Homo sapiens: one gene and its partners. The protein of the gene in region 1 interacts with the protein of each later gene in a pairwise test. Each region holds a gene or a part of one and is shown in the gene's direction. Other genes may lie near its edges.

Region 1 (3,500 bases):
GAGTTTGGTTCATATTTTAATGTCTTTGTAATGCAGAGTCCCTGGGAGTATTCTGGGAGTGTTAATTCCAATTTTGCTGGGCGCGGTGGCTCACGCCTGTAATCCCAGCACTTCGGGAGGCCGAGGCGGGTGGATCACCTGAAGTCCGGAGTTTGAGACCAGCCTGACCGAGATGGAGAAACCCCGTCTCTACTAAAAATACGAAATTAGCCTGGCGTGGTGGCGGGTGCCTGTAATCCCAGCTTCTTAGGAGGCTGAGGCAGGAGAATCGCTTGAACCCGGGAGGCGAAGGTTGCAGTGAGCCGAGATCCTGCCATTGCACTCCAGCCTGGGCAATAAGAGCTTAACCCCGTCTCAAAACAAACAAACAAACAAAAAAACAATATTACAGCACTGCTTTTGAAAAAAATAGTTCAATTTTTATTAAATGCTAATAGCATGCTTGGTACAATGGTTATGAAAAACAATGCAACTTTTCATACTGAAAGAATCTAGTCTTATGCTAGTTTATAACTAAATTAGGTATATTTAGGATATTGTAGTTAAAAAAAACTGTTTTTAGTAGACTTCTTTTTTTTTTTTTTTTTTTTTTTTTTTTTTTTGAGAGATGGAGTTTCGCTGTTTCGCCCAGGCTGGAGTGAAGTGGCGTGTTTTCGGCTCACTGCAAGCTCCGCCCCGCCCCTCCCCGCCTTCAGGTTCAAGCGATTCTCCTGCCTCAGCCTCCTGAGTACCTAGGATTACAGGTGCCCGCAACCAGGCCTGGCTAATTTTCATATTTTTAGTAGAGACAGGGTTTTGCCATGTTGGCCAGGCTGGTCTCGAACTCTGACCTCAGGTGATCCACTTGCCTCCCGAAGTGCTGGGATTACAGGTGTGAGCCACCGCGCCTGGCCCAATAGACTGTTTTTTAGAGTAGTTTTAGGTTCTCAGCAAAATTGAGGGGAAAATACAGGGTGTTCCCATTAAATTTTTAGTAATAAACACGATTGGGCTGGGGGTGGTGCTTCACGCCTCTAATCCCAGCAATTTGGGAGGCCAAGGCGAGTGGATCACTTGAGGTCAGAGTTCGAGACTAGCTTGGCCAACACGGTGAAACCCCGTCTCTACTAAAAAAAAAAAATCAGCCGGTCGTGTTGGCGGGCGCCTGTAATCCCAGCTACTCTGGAGGTTGAGGCAGAATTGCTTGAACCAGGGAGGGGGCGGTTGCAGTGAGCCGAGATCTGCCGTTGCACTCTAGCCTGGGCAGCAAGAACGAAACCCTGTCTAAAAAAAAAAAAAACACCATGATTGAGTACTTATGAAAAATTGTGAGAAATTCATTGTGTGGGATTTTCACCATTACTACATGTATTTGGAAATAAAAATTGTATGACTATGTATATGAAACTTGTTCATGTTCTAAAAAATACCCTCCATTTATAATATGTTTTTAAAATTTGCCACTGAGAAGTACAAATTTCCTTCTTATTTCATCTTAGTTATCAACCCAGAGTCACTGGAGGCAATGCAGTGTAGTGGTTAAGCGTGCAGATTCTGAAGTTAGACAAGATTTGGGTTGGAATCCTGACTCTGCCACTTACTAGCTGGGTATTCTTGGAAAGGTCAGTTTCCCCATCCGTAAAATGGGGATAGGAATGGTACCTTCCTCATATGATTGTTTTTTTTTTTTTAAGATTTAATGAATACCTTGATGTATTCGTCACAGTACTTGGGCATAGTAAGTGTTCGATAAATACGTAGTCCCCTGTGCCCATAACTGTAATATTTTACTAGCACTAAATTGTCTACTAATTCTTTTGGTTAGAGAATCTCCCTTGTTAAATGACTATTTTACAGAATGTTTTGAACTCCAAATCAAGCCTACCACGATTAATTATATTAAGAATTTTATTTTAACTTTATAAGGGCTTCTAGCAGTAGGTTAAGCAATTTTAGAGGTGAAATTCAAGTGTTCTCTATAAATTCCTATTCCTGAATGTAGATATTCATATTTTTAAGTGGAAGGAAAAGCCTTAAAGACATTTTCAAATAATATTTATCTTTTGTAAAAGTATTGAAGAAATGTTGGACTAAATACTGACTATGAGTAACTGGTCCCCTTAGTTATGGATAGCATGGTATTAAGGGGGTTTAGGTCACAGGATTGAGTCCACAAGTGGCTTGTTACTCGAGTGTTCCATGGTCAGGAAGTTAGTTCAACTTTGTTCCCAGTTTTGTGCTATTGATCACAAAAGAGTCAAATGACAATATGTAGATACACCAGTGCAAATAAATTAACACTATTAATTAGTATTTTGTACCTTGTTTTTCTGTGTACGTGGTGAATCATTAGTCTCATTTTTATTACTGAGCATTTTCATTAGTTTGGTTGAGGCTGGAAATGTTTATGTAATTTGTACTATTTATTTGAATATTTTTGAAAGTTTTGAGAAAATTATAAAAATAAAAAAAATTCTTCCTCTCTATTTCTCTACTATAAAAGTTTCTATATCTAAAACTGTTAACAGATTTCTTTTTCGAGAGAGAAAAGGTTAAATTAAAGAAGTTTGTCACTAGTACTCCATAATTTTTTGGAGTTTCTTTTCATGGTTCTCATTTTTTTTCTTCTGCAGGGTGAGGGGCAGTGGTGGTAAAGGTATATTGTTTGTGTAGTGCACCATCAGTTATATGTAGAGATTTTTAACTGTGAGTCTGCAGTAGCAAGTGGCCATTGGTGAGAATCCAACCCACAGATATATACTGCTTGCCCTTAGAGTATTTGGAATATTTGATAATTGTCACCATTTAAGAATAGAGATTTCTTTTCTTTTTCTTTTTCTTTTTTTTTTTTTTTGAGATGGAGTCTTGCTCTGTTACCCAGGGTGGTGTGCAGTAGTGTGATCTTGGCTCACTGCAACCTCCGCCTCCCGGATTCAGGTGATTCTCCTGCCTCTGCCTCCCCAGTAGCCGGGGTTACAGGTACACACCACCATGCCTGGCTAATTTTTGTATTTTTAGTAGAGACGGGGTTTCACTCTGTTGGCCAGGCTGGTCTCGAACTCCTAACCTCAGGTGATCCGCCTGCCTTGGCCTCCCAAAGTGCTGGGATTACAGGCGTGAGCCACCTCGCGGCCAATAGGAAGATTTCATATTTAAGAAGTCTCAACTTCTAGCATCTCTAGAAAACCCACAGGACTTGGCTATACCTGGTGGCCATTCCTGCTTGAGACTAGATTGCCAGAGCTGAGTAGCGGTTGACCCTTTTAGGTGGGTACTGAGGTCTCCATTTGCAGTCTCCACCAGGTCTGCTTTGCCTTTGCTATTGCAGTATTTGCCTGGCATCTGGCCTGGATCTTATGCTGAACCTAATATTCAGACTTCTCAAGTCTGAAACTTTAAGGAAAAGAAAATAAGGAATGTAAATAGTACCTTTCTTTTTTAAAAAAATCATTTTACTGTCTCTACAAAAATAAAATCATTCTTATTAAGTCAAATAATTGGTGAAGGTTAATGTTAGAACA
Region 2 (3,500 bases), on another chromosome or scaffold:
ACAGGCCGAGGGTCTAGGGCTCTGGTGAGGGGAAGAGTGAGCAGAGCGTGCTCAGATTGTGCTTGGGGAAGCCTAGAGGGCAAATCCAATCCAGGAGGAACCTGATGCAGCCCAAGGGGTCAGGGAGGGCTCACTGGAGAGGGAACATTGAGACCTGAGGGGATGAGGAGAGAACTTAGTGAGAAGGTAGGGAATACTGTTGCAGGCTGAGGGAACAGCCTGTGCAAAGGCCTAGAAGGGAAAGAAGATGGGGCTTCTGATGCTTTTTGTTAGATTTCTTTCTTTCTATTTTTTTGAGACAGAGTCTGCTGCTCTTGTTGCCCAGGCTGGAGTGCAGTGGCATGATCATGGCTGACTGCAGCCTCAACTCCTAGGCTCCAGCAGTCCTCCTGCCTCAGCTTACCGAATACCTGGGAGTACAGGCACACACCGCCATGCCTGGCTAATTTTTAAAATTTTTTGTAGAGACAGGGTCTTGCTATGTTGCCCAGGCTGGTCTTGAACTCCTGGGCTCCAGCAATCCTCCTACCTCAGCCTCCCAAAGCTTTGGTGTTACAGGCATGAGCCATTGCATGTGGCCTTCTGAGTGTTAGTGTACTGAATGCTGAAGACATGGCTGGGAAGTGGGGATTACTGTCCTTATTTTGTGAAGGAGGAACTTAGGATTCAAGGAGGCAAATTTTCATGCTCATAGTCACCCAGCTAGGAAGTTGTAAAGCCAGAATTTGAACTTGGATCTATCTGAGATCTGAGCTAAGTAAGAGAAGGTAGGAGCAGTGAGCATGATTAGGTCATGCAGGATTGTGGGTGCCAAGTTTGGGGGTGCTCAAACTCTACCAGAGACATTGGGGAGCCATGGCAGGTTCTAGGCAGAGGGAGGACAGGGTCAGGTTTGGCTTTAGAAAGATCCCTTGGCCTCGGCTGGGCACGGTGGCTCACGCCTGTAATCCCAGCACTTTGGGAGGCCGAGGAGGGCGGATCACGAGGTCAGGAGTTCGAGACCATCCTGGCTAACACAGTGAAACCCCATCTCTACTAAAAATACAAAAAATTAGCCAGGTGTGGTGGCGGGCGCCTGTAGTCCCAGCTACTTGGGAGGCTGAGGCGGGAGAATGGCATGAACCCAGGAGGCGGAGCTTGCAGTGAGCTGAGATCTGCCACTGCACTCCAGCCTGGGTGACAGATCGAGACTCCGTCTTAAAAAAAAAAAATCCCTTGGCCTCCAGGCCGGGTGCAGTGGCTTATGCCTGTAATCCCAGCACTCTGGGAGGCTGAGGTGGGCGTAAAACCTGAGGTCAGGAGTTCAAGACCAGCCTGGCCAACATGGCGAAACCCCGCATCTACTAACGATACAAAAGTTAGCCAGGCGTGGGGGCGTGTCTGTAGTCCCAGCTACTCAGGAGGTTTAGGGAGGGAGAATTGCTTGAACCCAGGAAGCGGAGGTTGCAGTGAGCAGAGGTCATGCCATTGCACTCCAGCCTCCAACCTGGGTGACAAGAGCGAGATTCCATCTCAAAAAAAAAAAAAGAAAAAAAGATCCCTTGGCCTCCAGAGAGCCCACAATGCATGAAAAGTAACAGAGGAAAAGAAGCAGGTATGTGAGATAGCAGGGAGGTGAAGGGAGTGGACAGACAAGGTTGATGCCACAAGTCACATAAGAGGGGCCAGGAAATAGCCACTGGATCTACCAGCAAGAAGGCTGATAGTCGGGAGGATCATTTGAGTCCAGGAGTTTGAGACCAGCCTGGGCAATGTAGTAGGACTCCATCTCTACAAAAAAAAAAAAATATATGTATATAGACATAGCCGGGCATGGTGGCACATGCCTGTGGTCTCAGTTGCTCGGGAGGCTGAGGTAGGAGAATCACTTGAGCCCGGGAGGGTGAGGCTGCAGTGAGCTATGATCTTGCCACTGGACTCCAGCCTGGGCCACAGAGACACCGTCTAAAAAAAAAAAAAAAAGGGCTGGGCATGGTGGCTCACTCCTGTAATCCCAGCACTTTGGGAGGCCGAGGTGGGCGGATCACCTGATGTCAGGAGTTTGAGACCAGCCTGGCCAACATAGTGAAACCCCGTCTCTACTAAAAATACAAAAAAATTAGCCAGGCGTGGTGGTGCACGCCTGTAGTCCCAGCTACTCAGGAGGCTGAGGCAGGAGAATCACTTGAACCTGGGAGGCAAAGGTTGCAGTGAGCCAAGATCGTGCCACTGCACTCCAGCCTGGGCAACAGAGTGGGACTCTGTCTCAAAAAAAAAAAGAAAGAAAGGCAGCCAGGGTGTGCAGGACGCTGTGGGTATGGACACCTGAGGGTGGTGGTAACTGAGCGGAGATAGTGTAGTCATCATGTCTAGATTCCCTGTGGGTGGGGAACATGGAGTCAAGTTTCAGGGCAGGCGTGGGGACCTACCTGTAAGACTCTAGGGGCAGGAAGTAGAGTGTGCAGAGCCTCCCTCTAGTAGCCTGTTAGGCTTAGAACTGGAGAGGATGGAGCATAGATGTCAGTAGGAGGCTGGGGCTGGGCAGAGGTGATATCAGTACACAGAGGCCATTATTGAGGAGGGTAACAGATTGGATTCCAATCCTGATTTCTTCACTTTCTTGCTATGTGACCTGGGGCATGGCCCCTCCCTTCCTGCCTCATTTCTTTTTTTCCTGTTTTTAATTTTTAGTTTTTTTAAAAAGCAGAGATGAGGTCTCTGTTGCCCAGGTTGGTCTCGAACTCCTGGGCGGCTCAAGTGATCCTCCCATCTTGGCCTTCCAAAGTGTTGGGATTATAGGTGTGAGCCACCACGCCCAGCCTGTGCCTCATTTTAAAATGACACTTATCTCACAGAGTTGGATTAAATCAGCCAATACCTGGAAAGCACTTTACCCCATGCTTGGCACACAGTAAATACTCAGTGAAGTGCCAGCTGCTATGATTGTCATCCCATGTATTTGTGTAATGTTATTATGCCAAAAACCAGTCTCCTTCCTTCCCTGCCGCCAAACCTCTGCATCTCCTCCTCCAGGTGCCTTCAAATCTCTTGACAAAGATGGCACTGGACAAATCCAGGTGAACATCCAGGAGGTAAGGACCCCCATATTGGGGTATGGGTGCCTGGGAGGACCCCACCCCTCAGCCCTTCATACCAGCTCTGAGCTGCAGTCCCCTTCCTCCTATTTTGCCAGCCGTCCCTGGGTGAGGGCAAAGGGGCTGGTGCTCTTGGGGTTCCCTGTCCTCACTCTCCACCCTCCTCTCCCCAGTGGCTGCAGCTGACTATGTATTCCTGAACTGGAGCCCCAGACCCGCCCCCTCACTGCCTTGCTATAGGAGTCACCTGGAGCCTCGGTCTCTCCCAGGGCCGATCCTGTCTGCAGTCACATCTTTGTGGGGCCTGCTGACCCACAAGCTTTTGTTCTCTCAGTACTTGTTACCCAGCTTCTCAACATCCAGGGCCCAATTTGCCCTGCCTGGAGTTCCCCCTGGCTCTAGGACACTCTAACAAGCTCTGTCCAC
Region 3 (3,500 bases), about 63 Mb from region 1:
CTTCACAGCTGGACCTCTGGCCACTGGCTGAGAGAACCACTGCTCTCCTGGCCTCCTGCATTGGAACACTTGGCTGTGAAATTAATCTGCAACCTGCAAAAGGCTCTGCCCACAGAAGGGACCTGGACACCATGTATGTTCCAAAGATCCGTGTCCATCCTCCAGGCACAGGCCACAGTCTGACTCTGAGACCAGCTGCCTTCTAGGCTAAAGGAGGGTGCTCTGGGCATTGGCTCAGAACAGGCTGCTGCTGAATGCAGTGGGAAGGGAGAAAGGGATGAAAAGGTCTTCTGAAATGCCCACCCATTTCTTGCATTTGATTCAGAACCCAGTGGGCAGTGGGTTCTTGGAATGGGAATCTTTTTGGTGCCCCCTGTCTTCTGACCCAGAGCGTTAGGAGGGAAGGGAAGGGGTGTTGGGCCCCTTCCCAGGGTCAGGGCTTGTAGCACCTCAGCTGGGAAGCAGTGTGAGCATGATGATATAACAGGAACCAACTCGTTCTTAGCACTTTCTGTGTCTACTTCAATTGTGCTTTACATCTGTTACCTCAAAGTTGCTGCTGTATTCCTCAGCACTTGGAACATGCTGGGCATTCAGGACATTCTTAGTAAATATTTACTGGATTAATTTAACCATCGAGGCTGGGCACGGTGGCTCACACATGTAATCCCAGCACTTTGGGAGGCCGAGGCGGGTGGATCACCCGAGGTCTGGAGTTTGAGACCAGCCTGGCCAACATGGTGAAACCCTGTCTCTACTAAAAATACAAAAATTAGCCAGACGTGGTGGTGCGCACCTGTATCCCAGCTACTCAGGAGGCTGAGGCACTAGAATTGCTTGAATCCAGGAGGCGGAGATTGCAGTGAGCCTAAGCGACAGGGCAAGACTGTCTCAAAAAAAATAAATAAATAAATAAATAAACCGTCACAGCAACCTCAAAATTAGATATATAAACTCTCCCCACTTTTTTTTTTTTTTTTTTTTGAGATGGAGTCTCACTCTGTTGCCCAGGCTGGAGTGCAATGGTATGATCTTGGCTCACCGCAACCTCCGCTTCCCAAGCTCAAGTGATTCTCCTGCCTCAGCCTCCCAAGTAGCTGGGATTACAGGCGTGTGCGCCACCATGCCCAGCTAATTTTTATATTTTTAGTACAGATGGGGTTTCACCGTGTTGGCCAGGCTGGTCTCGAACTACCTGACCTCAAGTGATCCGCCTGCCTCAGACTCCCAAAGTGCTGGGATTACAGGCGTGAGCCACCGCACCCAGCTAAACTCTCCCCATTTTACAGGTGAGAAAGTGCGCAGAGTCAGTTGCCTAAAGTCCCACAGCTCGGAAGTGGCGGAGCTGGGATTTGCACCTGGGTGTTTCTGACTCCAGATCCCCTTGATGAGAGGCTGGATGGGGCCTGGGATGCCCCTGGGGATCCAGTGTAAACCCTGAGAATGTGCCTCAGCTGTGGGGGCCCTCAGCATTCCAGAGGTAGTCATCAGACCCTAGAACCCTATGGGACTGTGCACAGATCGTTCCCTTCTGGGGCCTCAGTTTTCCCATCAGTCAAACGAGGAGGTTGACCCAGATGATGGTAAATCTTTCTTCCAGCCCTAAAACAATTTCAGGATTCCAAGCCATGCCAGCCCAGATTGGCAGCTGCACAAGCCTTGCTGTGTACTCAGGGATCATGCATATTTAATTTCACAATGAAAGGGTTTTTTTCTTACCCTTTTTCTACACATTACAGAAAGAGGTCAGGATCGATGACCACTAATGGAAAACTTTAACCTGCAATAACAATGAGGAACTTTCTGACAATTAGTGTGGCCCCTTAACGTGCTCAGTTTCTTGAGGAGCTCAGAGGGCTCCTACAGTTCCCACATGCCCATTTTCCTGAGATACTGAGCAGGGAGGGTCGGGGAGGAAGGCCCACTAGGGGCTGTGTGTGGATGCTGTAACCCTTTAGGTCTCTTCCAGTGCTGCGTTTTCAAACCTCATATGCTCTAATTTCAAGAGGAAGCAAGGCTTTGGCCCAGATGAGTGATGGGATCCAGAGGTGAGGGGGGGAATGGACACAGGGACCTACCTCTGGTGGGAGTGGGTGTGAAATTCCCATGCTTGTTGCTTCCAGTGTGGAAGCCCACTTCACATCCCTCCTGAGCCCTCAGGCCCAGATCCTCAGGATAAAGTCTTCCTGAACCTCCAAGCCTTAGCCCCAGAGCCCACCCTGCCCCCGCCCCCTACATCCACCAGATGCTTCCTGGGGTAGCCCACCCCCAGCCTGGTGCAGGAGGCTGAAAATCAAAGTGTACTGCTTTAACCGCATTAAAATCCCCTCCTCTCCTCAATTCAGATCAGGGCTATTTGATGTCTCAGGTGCCTGAAACCTTTTATCTGCCAGAGGTACCAGCTTCTCCGCCCTGTGATGGAGAGGGCTGTCCCTTGGGAGGGTCAGGGGGTCTGAAAGTTCCTGAATGTCAGAGATGAAAAGGACTTTTGGGGGTCACCTGATCCAACTGCTTTATTGTATGGATGGGAACTAAGGTCCAGAGAGGGGAAGGGTTGCACCTAAGGTCCGTACAGATCATTGGTGATGACGCTGAGCCTGGGACCTGGGCTCGCCTTTGTTCCACCACAGGTGCTGGGTCTTTACCATCTCTCTGAAGGCCTGGAGAGACCCAGCTCCACCTCTGTGGTTCAGGGCTCAGCCTCCAGGTCTGTCTGGGCTATGGGCTGAAAAGGAGCAAAGCCGTCCCAACAAGAAATGGGAATCTTCCTGGGTGGTTTGCTGGACCCCCGAGCTTTTGGCCATACCACTTCTTCATTCTAATCATAGTTTCCTCTTATAATAAAGTGGGGAGAAGCCAAGGGAGAAGTTTAGTGGCCCCCAGAGGTCCATCCAGCTCTGCCCTTAGCCCCTGAGAGTTCCTACCATGCTTCTTGTGACTGTTTTGCCACATCCTCATTGCTGCTGCTCTGTTACCTTCCCTTCTGAGAAGTGGAAACCCAAGGGCAGTGACACCACCAGCTTCTTCACTTCTGAGGCTGAGCCTCAGTGGTTATAGGGTGGGGCAGGGTTTCCAGTTAGCCTTAGAGGGGTAGGGCTCAGCTTTCTAAACATGTCACAGAAGCCCTGGCCCCTCCTGGCCCAGAGCATTGAAGGTAAAGGTGCAGGTTTGACCTGGTGGACTGTGGGTGGCTCCCATCTCACCTGTATTTGTGTCCTTATCAGTGTCCAACCCAGGGCCTATCTGCTGAATGGATAGTGAAATAATCACTAGATAAATAAATGCATGTAGAGATGCATAAATGGATTGGTGGGTGGGTGGATGGATGGATGGATGGATGGATAAATCGATGGAGACAGACAGATGGCCTCCCCTTTAGTCCAGGGCACAGAGATGGCTTCATGAGTACTCATCCTCCTGAGGGCCCCATGCTTAGAAGGGCCTATGTTTGGTTTAATGCTCTGCAGTCATCATTTTGAAATTGTTAATAATTTTTAACA
Region 4 (4,118 bases), on another chromosome or scaffold:
AGCTGCTATTCCGGTGGCAGGAAAAGTCTGTCCAAGTGGAGAAGCAGCAGATGCTGGGAAGGAATATGGGCTTCATGTTCAGTGGCCACGGAGCAGACCCTGACTCTGGAATCTGAGCTAACAATGTCTCCGGGCTTACATTTTCTCATGTGTAAAATGGGCCAAGCTTAGTATACCTAGAGTGTATAGGCAAGGGAAAGAGAGAGATGAGTGAGGGAAAGCGAGAATCCACTGAGACAGTAGCTCTCACTTTGCCTGACCTGCTAGCTTCCTCTCTTGTCCTGGTGTTGACCCATTTTGGACCTCAGGCCAGCTGGCTCCAGGGCTGTGCTTGTGCCTGCTCTGCCATCCCCATGTCTACATCGCTCAGGGCTCCCAGCCCACTGTGCTGCTCAGTGGTGTATATTTCACTTACCTTAAGGCCCAACGACTTGGAAACACATCCAGAAAGTCTGCTAGAGGATGCCTGAATGGTCAAGGTCATCTCAGTCAGGGCACCCAGGGCCACATTGCTCCCTGCAGTCCTTCCCCACATAGCTTGAGAAATGGCTGCCCCAGGAGGGTGCAAGGGTGCAAGGGTGCAGGGGTTCACTGATTACTGGGGAGAGAACAAGTTCAATTCCATGGTTAAAGAAGAAAAATGCAAATTGAATACCTGGCCCAAGGAGGTTCCTGGTCCCACCCCATGCCACCCTTGCCCTGGGATGTACTCTCCTTATGGTCTGACCTATGAGATCTCAGTGGACTCTATCCTCAGAAATCACAGAGTCCAGGATTGCAAACTGGAGGCCCTGCTGTGAGGCCCTGCCCACAGGTGGGTCTTGCCTGGCCTGTAGAGAGCTGGCTCTCTCACTTCCACACATCCCCACCATTCCCCACCGTGGCACCATGGAGTCTTCCTTACCTGATCTAGGAAGGCGGCGCTGGAGCTTGCTGCCCCCTGTCTGATCCAGCCCCTCATGTTGTAGGAGGGAGGTGGGCGACTGAAGCTCAGAGAGGGAGTAAATGAGCTCAACTTCACACAGCTAGTGAGGGGCTGGTTGGAGACCAGATTTTCCAAGTGGTTCCCCGGGCCCTCGGGGAGCAGCAAGGGCCAGGCGAACCTCCATGCACTGCACAAACATGAAGAAGTGAACCCTCTTGGGGTTCCCCAGGTGGGAAGTGGGGTGTCTTCTTGGGAGGGGGTGAACCAACTTCTGGTGAGTTTTCCTTGTTGAGGCAATGCTGCACCCGTAGCCTGTTTGTTAATAATTACCTGGTCGGGAGAGAGTGGGTGGTACTGAGAAGGCCTGGTTTGACCAGTCCTCCTGGGCTTGATAAGACAGAGCTGAGACAGCCACCCAGGGGGTCCACTCCAGGACAGACTGTGCCGTGAGTAACCCCCTGAGACAATGGAGACGAGAGACTCTAGAGGGAGGGTGACCAACTGTTCCACTTTGCCCAAGACTGATAATTCTTCTGGGATATATTTTCAGTGCTAAAACCAGGAAAGTCCCAGGCAAGCTGGGACACTTTGTCACTCTTGCTAGAGGTGAGAAATACTCAGGCTAGAAAGGCCCCGACTTAGGGTCCATGGGCACTGGTGGGTGACTATGCCCGGAGACCCAGAAAAGCCTCCCCCAGGGACACACAGCTGGTACAGGGCGGCACTGACTGAGGGCCAAGGTCTTCTGGCTGCCAATCCAGGTGATCTTGGGGAGCTCATGCCGGAGGGGAGGTGTGTCTGTGAGTGATGCGGTCCTATGTATGTTTCTAAATGATCCCTCCAACTGCTGAGTGGAGAACAGAGAGCAGAAAGACTAGGAAGCTTTCTGCAAGGGTCTAGGTCAGGGGTCAACAAACCACAGCTTGTAGGTCAAATCCGGCCCACCGCCCATGAGCTAAGAATGCAAGATGTAAAATATAAATATAAAATATAAGTGATAAGTATAAAAGATAAATATATAAAGCTATGAAAAATCAATAGAAGAACAACATTTTGTGACACAGGAAAATAATATGAAATTCACATTTCAGTGTCCGTAAGTGAAGTTTCACTGAAACACAGCCACGCCTCTTCATGCATGTCCGGTCTGTGGCTGTTTCCAGCTGCCACAGCAGAGTTGGGTAGTGGCAGCAGAGACTGTGTGGTCTGCAAAACCACAGATATTACTATCTGGCGCTTTGCAGAAAAAGTTTTCTGAGCCCTGGTTGAGGATCATAGCAAAAGAGGGGGCGAGAGGCTGAAGAACCTACAGGAGAGTCTAGGAGTTGGAGACCAGCTTGGGCAGCATGGTGAGACCCCAACTCTATAAAAAATTAGCTGGGTGTGGCTGTGCATGCCTGTAGTTCCAGCTACTTGGAAGGGTGCATGCCTGTAGTTCCAGCTACTTGGAAGGGTGAAGTGGGAGGATCACCTGAGCTCAGGAAGTCAAGGCTGCAGTGAGCCATGATTACACCACTGCACTCCAGCTTGGGTGACAGAGTGAGACCCTGTCTCAAACAAACAAACAAACAACCAAACAAACAAAAAAAACCCAACCCTGCAGGTCATGGAAGTGGATTAAATGGATTTTGGGTGGATAGAAGCCTAGAAGCTTTTTGGCCTGACAACCGGATACTGGTGGGACCATTTGATGGGGCAGGAGCAGATTTGGGGGAGAAACTGGAGTATCCTTTCTTGGACAGATGTTCATTATGAAACGGGTACCAATTCTATCCCCACAACTTTGGGCAGGTCACTTATTAAACATCCATGTCCTTGTCTGTACGGGGTAACAATACAAAGACCAGTTCTACTGACCTCTACAGGGGTGGGAGGGTCAAACTAAATGGCTGAAAGTGGTTTGTAAACCATATAAAGCACTCCACAGATGTTTGTGGAACAGACCCTAAAATAAACTCTGAGGATAGCCATCCTCCATGCAAAATCACTGCACTAATGAAATCAACTCATCTGAAAGACAAGTGTGGGAGAAGCAGCACCTGAGTCTGGGGATGTGGGTTCTGGCTGGGATATGTGCTAGGTAGGTGACTTGGGTGAGTCACTTTGGGAGTCTTCATTTCCTGCTCTGTTGGGTGAGAATGGAGTCTAGTGCTGTGCAGAGCTCACACAGGTGGGAAACACAATGACATGATGGACACAAGGAGTGTGCCTTGTAAGTCTAAAACATTGCCATCCAATAGTGTTGCTGTCACCATACATGTGGAAGGTGGTGGGTGTTACATTGCCTTTCACAAGCCCATCTGCAGGAGTTGAGGGTGTCACTCACGATCTCCGGGTGCTGGCCCACTGCCAGCCTTCTCAGTAGGGCCAGGTGTTCTTCTGGGGGAATTTCCTGGGCATTCTCTTCCCTCCCATAGGCCTGAGAGTGCAGAGGATGCATCTTATCGACTACCTGCTCCTCCTGCTGGTTGGACTACTGGCCCTTTCTCATGGCCAGCTGCACGTTGAGCATGATGGTGAGAGTTGCAGTAACAGCTCCCACCAGCAGATTCTGGAGACAGGTGAGGGCTCCCCCAGCCTCAAGATAGCCCCTGCCAATGCTGACTTTGCCTTCCGCTTCTACTACCTGATCGCTTCGGAGACCCCGGGGAAGAACATCTTTTTCTCCCCGCTGAGCATCTCGGCGGCCTACGCCATGCTTTCCCTGGGGGCCTGCTCACACAGCCGCAGCCAGATCCTTGAGGGCCTGGGCTTCAACCTCACCGAGCTGTCTGAGTCCGATGTCCATAGGGGCTTCCAGCACCTCCTGCACACTCTCAACCTCCCCGGCCATGGGCTGGAAACACGCGTGGGCAGTGCTCTGTTCCTGAGCCACAACCTGAAGTTCCTTGCAAAATTCCTGAATGACACCATGGCCGTCTATGAGGCTAAACTCTTCCACACCAACTTCTACGACACTGTGGGCACAATCCAGCTTATCAACGACCACGTCAAGAAGGAAACTCGAGGGAAGATTGTGGATTTGGTCAGTGAGCTCAAGAAGGACGTCTTGATGGTGCTGGTGAATTACATTTACTTCAAAGGTGAGAGTCAGATCATTGGTATATGCTAAATCCACACCACCGCCTCCAACCCACTAATTTGTTGACTGGTTAAATATATTTTTACAAAAATGTAAGTAAAAACGTTGTGT

Evidence for each region. The genes of interacting proteins can lie anywhere in the genome.
Region 2: the proteins of RASA1 (region 1) and CAPNS1 interact in binary tests that used the Homo sapiens proteins (3 or more experiments, as listed by UniProt).
Region 3: the proteins of RASA1 (region 1) and PDGFRB interact in binary tests that used the Homo sapiens proteins (3 or more experiments, as listed by UniProt).
Region 4: the proteins of RASA1 (region 1) and SERPINA4 interact in a two-hybrid assay, tested with the Homo sapiens proteins (one large-scale study listed by BioGRID and IntAct).

Annotation. Positions count from the first base shown.
Region 1 is NC_000005.10:87,270,883-87,274,382, forward strand, and holds part of RASA1 (ras GTPase-activating protein 1), read left to right. Parts: intron 1-3,500. UniProt on the Homo sapiens protein: Inhibitory regulator of the Ras-cyclic AMP pathway. Stimulates the GTPase of normal but not oncogenic Ras p21; this stimulation may be further increased in the presence of NCK1.
Region 2 is NC_000019.10:36,146,566-36,150,065, forward strand, and holds part of CAPNS1 (calpain small subunit 1), read left to right. Parts: intron 1-3,012; coding exon 3,013-3,071; coding exon of another isoform or gene 3,072-3,247; coding exon 3,248-3,274; 3' UTR 3,275-3,500. UniProt on the Homo sapiens protein: Regulatory subunit of the calcium-regulated non-lysosomal thiol-protease which catalyzes limited proteolysis of substrates involved in cytoskeletal remodeling and signal transduction. Essential for embryonic development.
Region 3 is NC_000005.10:150,149,346-150,152,845, reverse strand, and holds part of PDGFRB (platelet-derived growth factor receptor beta isoform 1 precursor), read left to right. Parts: exon of another isoform or gene 1-507; intron 508-3,500. UniProt on the Homo sapiens protein: Tyrosine-protein kinase that acts as a cell-surface receptor for homodimeric PDGFB and PDGFD and for heterodimers formed by PDGFA and PDGFB, and plays an essential role in the regulation of embryonic development, cell proliferation, survival, differentiation, chemotaxis and migration.
Region 4 is NC_000014.9:94,560,124-94,564,241, forward strand, and holds the start of SERPINA4 (kallistatin isoform 2 precursor), read left to right. Parts: upstream 1-1,318; 5' UTR 1,319-1,371; exon of another isoform or gene 1,372-1,592; coding exon of another isoform or gene 1,593-1,686; intron 1,687-3,342; coding exon of another isoform or gene 3,343-3,359; coding exon 3,360-4,008; intron 4,009-4,118. UniProt on the Homo sapiens protein: Inhibits human amidolytic and kininogenase activities of tissue kallikrein.